2 linked regions of the Homo sapiens genome follow. The protein of the gene in region 2 purifies or fractionates together with the protein of the main gene of each other region. This does not show direct contact. Each region holds a gene or a part of one and is shown on either strand. Other genes may lie near its edges.

Region 1 (3,500 bases), on a different chromosome or scaffold from region 2:
CCAGGATCGAGCTCTGGTTCTCTTTCTCCTCACTGCTGTCCTTGCTCTTCCCTCTCCACCCACAGCAGTCCCCTCCTCTTCCCTTAAAAAGCCAGTTGCAAGCTCTAGCTTCAGGGGCCTCACACTGGGCATCCCCTCTGCTTCACGTGCTCTTTCCACAAAAGCACAAACCTCACCCCCTTGGATCCTTTAACTCAAACGTCACCTTCATAGCTGGGCAGACCCTGACCACTCTATCCAAAACTGTACTCCCCACCTGTTTTCTCAGTTCCCCTTATTCGGTTCTATTTTTTTCTCTTATAAACTTTAAACTTTATGTCTGTCTCTTCCCACTAAGATGTAAGTTCCACAGGGCAGGGATTTTGTTCATGTACATGTTTTGTTTCCAGGACTAGAAGACTGTGTGGCACACAGCAGGTGCTTATTAAGATCTTTTGTTAAATAAATGAATGAATATTAAATACTTCAAACCCTCAACTCACTTAAAATTAGGGTTGTTTATATAAAGATGATGGATTACTCATTTTTACTATATTGTGGAAGGATAATTTTATTTCCAGATGATTATTTCCAGTTTTTAACGTGAAATCTGGAGAACTGTTTACTAGCAATGGTTAGACAACTCAACGTCTTATCTTTCTAATGCTTGTAAGTAAAAAGCTTTGTCTGGTTTAGGCAGCATGAACTTTACATCAGGTTTATGGTCTTTGGTTCTATGAAGGGCAAAAAATTGGACTGCATTTTTATATTTTATGAACATGTTCATAAACCCTTTTATTGGTGCTCTCAACAGCTGATTTCATGGATAATATGAAAAGTTGAAATGCATTCAGAGAACAGCACAAAGAATGATTTTCTTGGTCTAATTTATACAAACAGAGTGAGGGTTCACCTCTGGCCATGAACTACGGAAGGTTTTTAAGGCTACTAGTGACTGGCTAACCTGCTACTTGTCCTTCCTACTAAAACTGAATAGAAGAGAGAACCTTCCTCTTTTTCTGTGTAGAAAACAGAAATTAATTATTAGTTGCCTGAAGTAGATGGGCCTAGTTAAATCCCAAAGAGATTTTAACAACCAGGGATGTGAACTTCATCGTGGCTCAGATATCAAGTTATCAGACACATGCAGAAGGTGTGGATTGCTAATGCATTTTACAGCTTTGTTGAATATCTAAATTTAGGAAGTATAGGCTATAGTTTAGAAAGGGTCACAAAATAAGATCTCCTACTGATTTATATGAAGGTTTGTACAATCAGATATAACCAGGGGCACCTGTGAGTTGGTTCCCATGGTACCTGTTGCTATGCATGCTGATTTTTGGGGATCCTGGAAGGGGAAAGGTCACCATGCTGCTGAGGCAGCCAACAAGCAGAATGGGTAAAATGTGTGGGCAAAGTGTCCAGTTTCTGTATTTAATTTGTGGACATCAAAATGAAGCAAACAAGATTTGGCCCTAATTAGACATGATGGAAAAAATGTGAAAATATCCAAGTAAGGTGCTGAGAGAAATATTTGATAAATACAAGTTTTTGGTATTTTATTACTTGGAGGGGGAAAAAGCCAAACACAGCTTACATGAAAACAGCTCTCATCATTCAACAAACTGGAAAGTGTTTGCAGATATTTCCCAGAACAACTCCAGGGCCAGCTAGATTCCTAACCAGAACAGGAACCCACAAAGACAAAACAAAAACGCCAGTGCCCACCTTGTTAGTTTCACTGGTCGTGTCTGTGGCACTCTCTTCCGCCTCTCCCCCTTCCTTCTCCTGAAGGTTTTCATTCTCGTCCAGAAGCTTAACAGGGACAGGTGGTGGGGCCTCCTCTTCTGGATCACATGAATTTCCAAGGATACTCTCTACATTAACACTTTGACGACATTTTTTGTTTCTGTCCACCGAGGCATATTCAGCAAACTCAGCTTTGCCTTCAGTCTGGGGCCCTGGGAGCTCTTTCGAGGCAGAAGTAGATTTTGCCTTGCCACTGTGGCCTTTCTCCAGGTGTGCAGCTGCAGCCACCTCCTTGATCTCTTTCACAGTTTCATACAAGCAGTCCTCCACCATGTTTTCTTGGGAGGAGCTGTCCTTGAGCACTTCATAGGGCCCTTCCATCCCCAGCCCCTGGTCCCCGTCCACACTTCTCGCCGTGAGCATGGTATCCACTGCGCTCTCGGGAGGGATTCTGGGCAGCTCCCGACTCTGATGACATTTTGGTTTCCCTGTGCTGTCCTGGGAATCCAGCAGATCCGAGGCCGATGTCTGGACTTCCTCGTAATGCTGCATGCAGGTCAGAGTACTGTCCTCTGAAAGAACTAAAGCAGCACACACATTAAAAGCGGAGAAAGGCAAGTCTTTCAATAATTATTACCGAGAATCAGGTAATATAAAGTTAGGTTAAATCAAGATGCGTGCTTTTTATTTAAGTCTCAGGCACAAATTATAGTTGTTATGACCATCAGTTGGTATCCTACTTCAATCACAGTTTAAAATAAAGCTGTTCATTATATCTTTCCCAATACAAGATTTAATAAGTTATCTTGGCTCTAAGTGTAGTTCACAATTACTTTCCTTAATGTCACTCCAATGAGAGACTCTTGTAGGCAGATTGTCCAATGTGACCAGAAGATGACCAGTTTGATGCCGCTGAACTATGGGAGGCTGGACACCAGAAAGGCAGCATGTGCAGTGACCACAGTCCCCAGCACCACTGACCCCTGCCTGTGTGGAGGGAATTATTGGTAGCCACCCCCTTTCACACAGGTGACTTTTGTTTGGCAGACATAATAGAAACTACAGGGCAAACATGCACCCGTCAGCCATTAGCACAAAGGGACTGGCACCTCATACCTTGCTTCCATCTCATCCCGCCACCAACATTCCTACCTCAAATTAGAAAAAAACCAAATGTGAAATTCTTGGCCAGCCACAGATATGCTATTGTGTGAAGCTGTTCAGTCGTCCCTTTGTCAACCGTGTTGTGAGTGCCTGCCATGCACCAGGGATGGTGCAGGGTGCTGCAGACACATCATTCAATGAAACAGAAAGCCCTGCCCTTAGGATGCAGACACAAAGTAAGCAAGTTATTCCATTAGTGTCTCACTCTGGGGGAATTAGAAATAGTGTTTCCAAGGGGTATGTGAAAAAATGACAACGGATCCCCCAATCCTTCTGAACTTACCAACACCCCTGTGTGTTCTAAATCCCTGATCATCACGGAGGGGGTGAACTTTTGCTCTCTGGTTCTAGTTGTCTACATCATGGTAGACAGAGAACAGGCACTGGTGTCCTGATTACCCCACAGTTTCCTCATCAGTAAACAGGGGTAACAGGACGCCCTCTTACCTCAGGTAAAAGCATGGTGTAAACTCTAAAGCATGAAGGAAACCTAGCTGCTCCTTCCATCAGCAAGAGTACACAATGCATGATGCAGAGGTTATGCAGAGTGACTGAGTGCGTGCCCAGGGATCAGACTGCCTGGTTCCAACTACAGATCCTTAGCCCGC
Region 2 (5,032 bases):
TCCAGCATCCAACACAGATCTCTACCAATCTGTTCTCTACCAAACAACCAGAATGATCTTTCAAAACTGCAGATCTATATCATGTCACAATGTGTACCTGTTAGTCTTTCTCACACATACACATACTGGCTGAAAATTCCTCAACGGTTGCCCATGCTCTTAGGACAAAAATAAAAACTGTTAATATGGCCTACAGACCCAGTGTGGTATGGTCCCTGCTTAACTCGCCAACCTCATTTGACACCACTCTCCCCCTTGCTTTCTAGGGTCCAGCCTTATTGGCCTTCTCTCAATTCCTCAATTTCTCCACATCTTTGAGTCAGGACCTTCCACCTGCTGTTCCCTCTAACTGAACTGTCTTCCGCCTTTCTCTTCATCATTAAGAGTTCACTTCAGTCTCATTTACCAGAAGCTTTGATCTAGGACTTTGATCTCTAGAACTGAGAGGAATACATTTATGCTGTTTATAAACCACTCAATCTGCGGTATTCTGTTATAGCAGCCCAAACAGACAAAGACAGTGGCCTTCGGTGACTAGCTTTTTTCACTTAGCATATTTTCAGGGTTCATCCATGTTGTAGCACGTATCAGTGCTTCCTTTGAATTGATGAATAATATTCTGATGTACTGTTCTATCATATTTTTATGCAAAATGTATCGGGCCCAGAGAGACCTGAGTATAGGCGCTCAGCCATAACCCCACACCCTTGCCCCATGCCTGGGGGCAATTGTTTAAAGCCATTTTTTTCTTTCTTTTCTACCCTGTAGTTTCCTAACTAGCTGCCTCACCCATTATTTTCCTGTAGTTCCTGGAATATGTGATACAAAGAACAATGTATAGCCAAACAATAGCTTGTTATTTTAATGTAAATTCTTGGTAAACAACTTGGAAAGTGCCTCTTCTGCGTGGTGGCTCAGGCCTGTAATCCCAGCACACTTTGGGAGGCCGAGGTGGGCAGATCACTTGAGGTCAGGGGTTCGAGATCAGTCTAGCCAACATGGTGAAACCCCATTTCTACTTAAAAAAAAAACAAAAATACCCTGGGCGTGGTGGCTCACGCCTGTAATCCCAGCACTTTGGGAGGCCGAGGCGGGCGGATCACGAGGTCAGACCATCCTGGCTAACATGGTGAAACCCTGTCTCTTTGTAAAATACAAAAAATTAGCCGGGCGCGTTGGCGGGCACCTGTAGTCCCAGCTACTCGGGAGGCTGAGGCAGGAGAATGGCATGAACCCGGGTGGCGGAGTTTGCAGTGAGCCGAGATCGCACCACCGCACTCCAACCTGGGGGACAGAATGAGACTCCGTCTCAAAAAAAACAAAACAAAACAAAAAAAAACACAAAAAAAAACTTAGCCAGGTGTGGTGGCATGCACCTCTAATTCCAGCTACTCGGGAAGCTGACGTATGAATATCACTTGAACTCAAGAGGCGCAGGTTGCAGTGAGCCGAGATCGTGCCACTGCACTCCAGCTTGGGTGACGGACTGAGATTCTGTCTCAAAAACAACAAAAAAGTGTCTCTTGTTTTTCCCTTTAAAAACACACTTGCAACTGTTGCTAATCTGGAGCATATATTTATGGCAACTTGAATCTAGACTCTTGGGTTGCAGTCCTCAAACTTGGCCCCAGTAAACTCTTTCTACTAATTTTACAGTTGCATAATTAGTTATCTGACTCCTAGTTAGACTGTGCCAAGAGGGCAGGGACTGTGCCAATCTTGTTCGTTACTGTTAACTGCCACATTCAGCCCAATGCCTAGCTCTGAATATGCACTCGTAAGTATTGGCTGAATGAATTAATCATTTTGTTATTAGTAATAATGACTCTGCCACTCTGTGGGGTTAGTTATTATCATCTTCATGTTAGTTGGAAGGTAGGTAATTTGTTCCTTGTTTCACTGGCTCTCAATGTTTGACTCATGTCCTTCTTCCTCACCAGAGGGCACACGAGCTCCTCTAGGGCAGGGACTGTTTCTCCTTCCTCATTTTGTTGCCACAAATTCAGCTCAGGGCTAGGCACAAAGCACAGGCTGGACAGATGGGCGACTGAGGGACAAACGGAGAGTCAATCAATGTTCTCCACGACCAGGTCGCTACCTGTCTCCAGTCCCTCCTGGCCTCAGACTGTGATCCAGCAACACCGAACAGCAAGTGACTTCCCCTCTGCATACCCCCCAGGCTGCTCCTTGCCTTATGCTACCACATATGCTGCCCTTTTTGCCTGGAATGGCTTCCCCTTCTATTTACAAAGTCCAACTGATATTTTAAGTCTATGATCAGGTGCCATTTCCTCTGGAAGTCTTTCTCAGATCCTCCAGGCTGTTTGTCCTCTGGTCTCCTGCAGCCCCTGTAGTTTCCTGTCTCACAGCACTGACCACCCTATTGCCACAGTTTACCCCGACTCTGTCATCATGGGCAGGAACCATGACTGCTTAAGTGTTCCCTGTGCCAAGCAGAGGACTCAGGATATGGCAGATGCTGTTTGTCAAATGAATAAATAAATCCTGGAGAAAAAGGGCAGGCAGTCTGAGGCCCAAGACTGATCTTGCCAGGCTTCCTTTATTAGAGACTGCTTGGGCTGATGAACAACTGAGGTAAGCACTCAGCAGAGGCCTAGCCCCCTGCTGGGAGAAGGGAGATGGGTAGGGGTGTTGTCTTTCACCCACTTTGTGCTGAAGGAAATGTGATCTCCACCGGGAGAACAGGAGGCCTCACTTTTCCCAGTCCCAGTCCTGACAACTCCTCACATGGCTTGGCCTGAGCCTGGACAGATGTGCCTCTAGTCTGCCTTGTGCCCTAGGTTTCGGGTGAGCAGTTCCTCAGGCTCAAGTTTGGGGTAAGCCCAGGAGCAGGACCACCTGCTCACACTGCTGACAGGTAGGAGGCCAGGCTTCCACTTCTGAGGAACCAGAGATGGATGAACTTAAGTGCCTCAGGGGAGAAGGGAGGAAATGGATGTCACACAGGAAGGGAGGGAGGGAGGGAGCGAGGGAGGGAGGAAAGAGAAGAGACCTGGCCTCCCTCTGATATAGCCAAGGGGAGTGTGAAAGCCTCTGGACTGCTTACTTCAGGTACACTGAAAAGTCAATAAAAAGCAAAGAAAGAGTCACAAAAAACAAGTAAGTGCCGCTGTGCTGTGGAACAGGGTAAAAGACGGTAGAGAACACAACCTTGTCCCTGCCCTTCAGGAGGTGCACAATCCAGCAGTTTCAGATGAAATATAGCCCACAGACTTCTTCATATAAAGAACAGTGTGGCAAGTGGCATTCAGCTCTACTTCTCCAACCTGACCTCCAGCTTCTCTTCCACAAAAGGAGCTCCCTCCTGTGACAAGCTGCCATGGTCCTTTCTAGATCACCCTCATACCCTCCCAGACCAGAAGGCAGGTGTAGGATCAGAGTGGGGGGAAGAGGCAAAGGAAGATGAGATCACACCCAGCTGGGAGGAATCCAAGAAGGCTCTGTAAGGAAAGCAGCACTAGAGCTTTGAAAGGTGTAAGCAGAGGATAATGAATACAGATGGCAGAGGGCCATCTGTGGAGGACCCACATCCAGGGCCCATGGACTGAAGATTCCAGGGTGTCCTTAAAGAGGAGGATCGAATACCTCCCCCTGGGAGCAGAAGAGCATTAGGCTGCTGCCCTTCACTATCCAGAACTTTCCCAAGACTCTGGGGCTAAGGACAGGAGCTGGGGGAGGTCAAGTAGAGGCAGACACAGTACAGAGCCCCAGAGAGGTCAAGTGGGGAAGAAGGGTAAAGCACGACATTATTTACGAGGTCTGAGTTTTGCTCTAAATACTGATATTATTGACCATATCAATCATATACACAGTGACCCAACCATGTGTAACCTACAGTCATGCGCTACACAATGATGTGTTTGTTAACGATAGACTGCATGTATGAGGTGGTCTTATAAGATTATAATGAAGCTGAAAAATTCCTATCCTCTTGTGACGTTGTAACTGTCTCAACATCATAGTGCAACAAATGACCTTTTCTGTATTTAGGTATGTCTAGATACATAAATACTTACCATTATGTTACAATTGCCTACAGTATTCAGGGCAATAACGTGCTATACAGATTCCTAGCCTAGGAGCAACAGGCTATACCATATAGATTAGGTGTGTGGTAGGCTATTACCATTTAGGTTTGGGTAAGTATACTCTATGATGTTCACACTGTGATGAAATTGCACTACTCAGAATGTGTCCCTATTGTTAAGCAAGGCATGACTGTATGTGTAAATTCAAAGAAATAAATGAGTATGGGATTCTGTCCTGCTATAGGCAGGTCTGTTGGGCAGAGCTAAGAGCCCAGGACATTGAAGAAGAAATAAAGAGCAGCATGAACCACCTGTACAGAGTCTAGGGTACAGAAAGGCTGAATAAGGACCTACTGTAGGAATTCCAGAAAGTTTCCTTCTAGCAAGGATGGTCAGGCTCCCTTTACCCCCACTGCCCCCAGACCTGGCTCTGTTCGCAGGAAGAACTATAACTGGTGGGTTACATGTCTGTTTCCTTGAGACCAGGGCCTGGGTCACCATCCCCATCCCCCATCTGCAGTGCCCAGCAGAGGCCCACTCACTCTTTCATAATCAAGAGCTGCTTTGGGTGAGGGGGAGGGAAGGATGTCCTCATTCAGGCCCTCATCATCTTGAATCTGTCTTTACTGAAACAGAAACAGCCTCTTAACAGATCGGCCCTCAGCCTTTTCCCAATGCAGTCCATCCTTCACTCCTCTGCAAGTCAGCCTTAACTGGGTCATTCCCCTGCTCAAAAACTTCCCACGTCTCCCCACTGTGTACAGAGTAAGAGTTCAAAACTCCTCACCCTGGGCATGGCAGGCCTTGCACATTCCAGCTTCTCTCAGACAACCTTCCCTCTTTTCTGACACCCTGTACAAATCCCACCTCAGGAGCATCAACATATTCCGCAGGCCCAGCAGCCAGCCAGCATCTGCTTCCCGCCTTTGCTTAGCTTGCTCCTGGCTCTGTGGTCTTGTATGAGATGGGGGCTGAGGGCAGGT

What was found. Proteins that work in one complex are often made in the same cells at the same time.
Region 1: the proteins of CLPB (region 2) and PAG1 purify together in Homo sapiens (affinity purification with mass spectrometry; 2 studies listed by BioGRID and IntAct, with this or other methods). This does not show direct contact.

Annotation. Positions count from the first base shown.
Region 1 is NC_000008.11:80,983,069-80,986,568, forward strand, and holds part of PAG1 (phosphoprotein associated with glycosphingolipid-enriched microdomains 1), read right to left. Parts: intron 2,310-3,500; coding exon 1,708-2,309; intron 1-1,707. UniProt on the Homo sapiens protein: Negatively regulates TCR (T-cell antigen receptor)-mediated signaling in T-cells and FCER1 (high affinity immunoglobulin epsilon receptor)-mediated signaling in mast cells.
Region 2 is NC_000011.10:72,423,575-72,428,606, forward strand, and holds part of CLPB (mitochondrial disaggregase), read right to left. Parts: intron 1-5,032. UniProt on the Homo sapiens protein: Functions as a regulatory ATPase and participates in secretion/protein trafficking process. Has ATP-dependent protein disaggregase activity and is required to maintain the solubility of key mitochondrial proteins.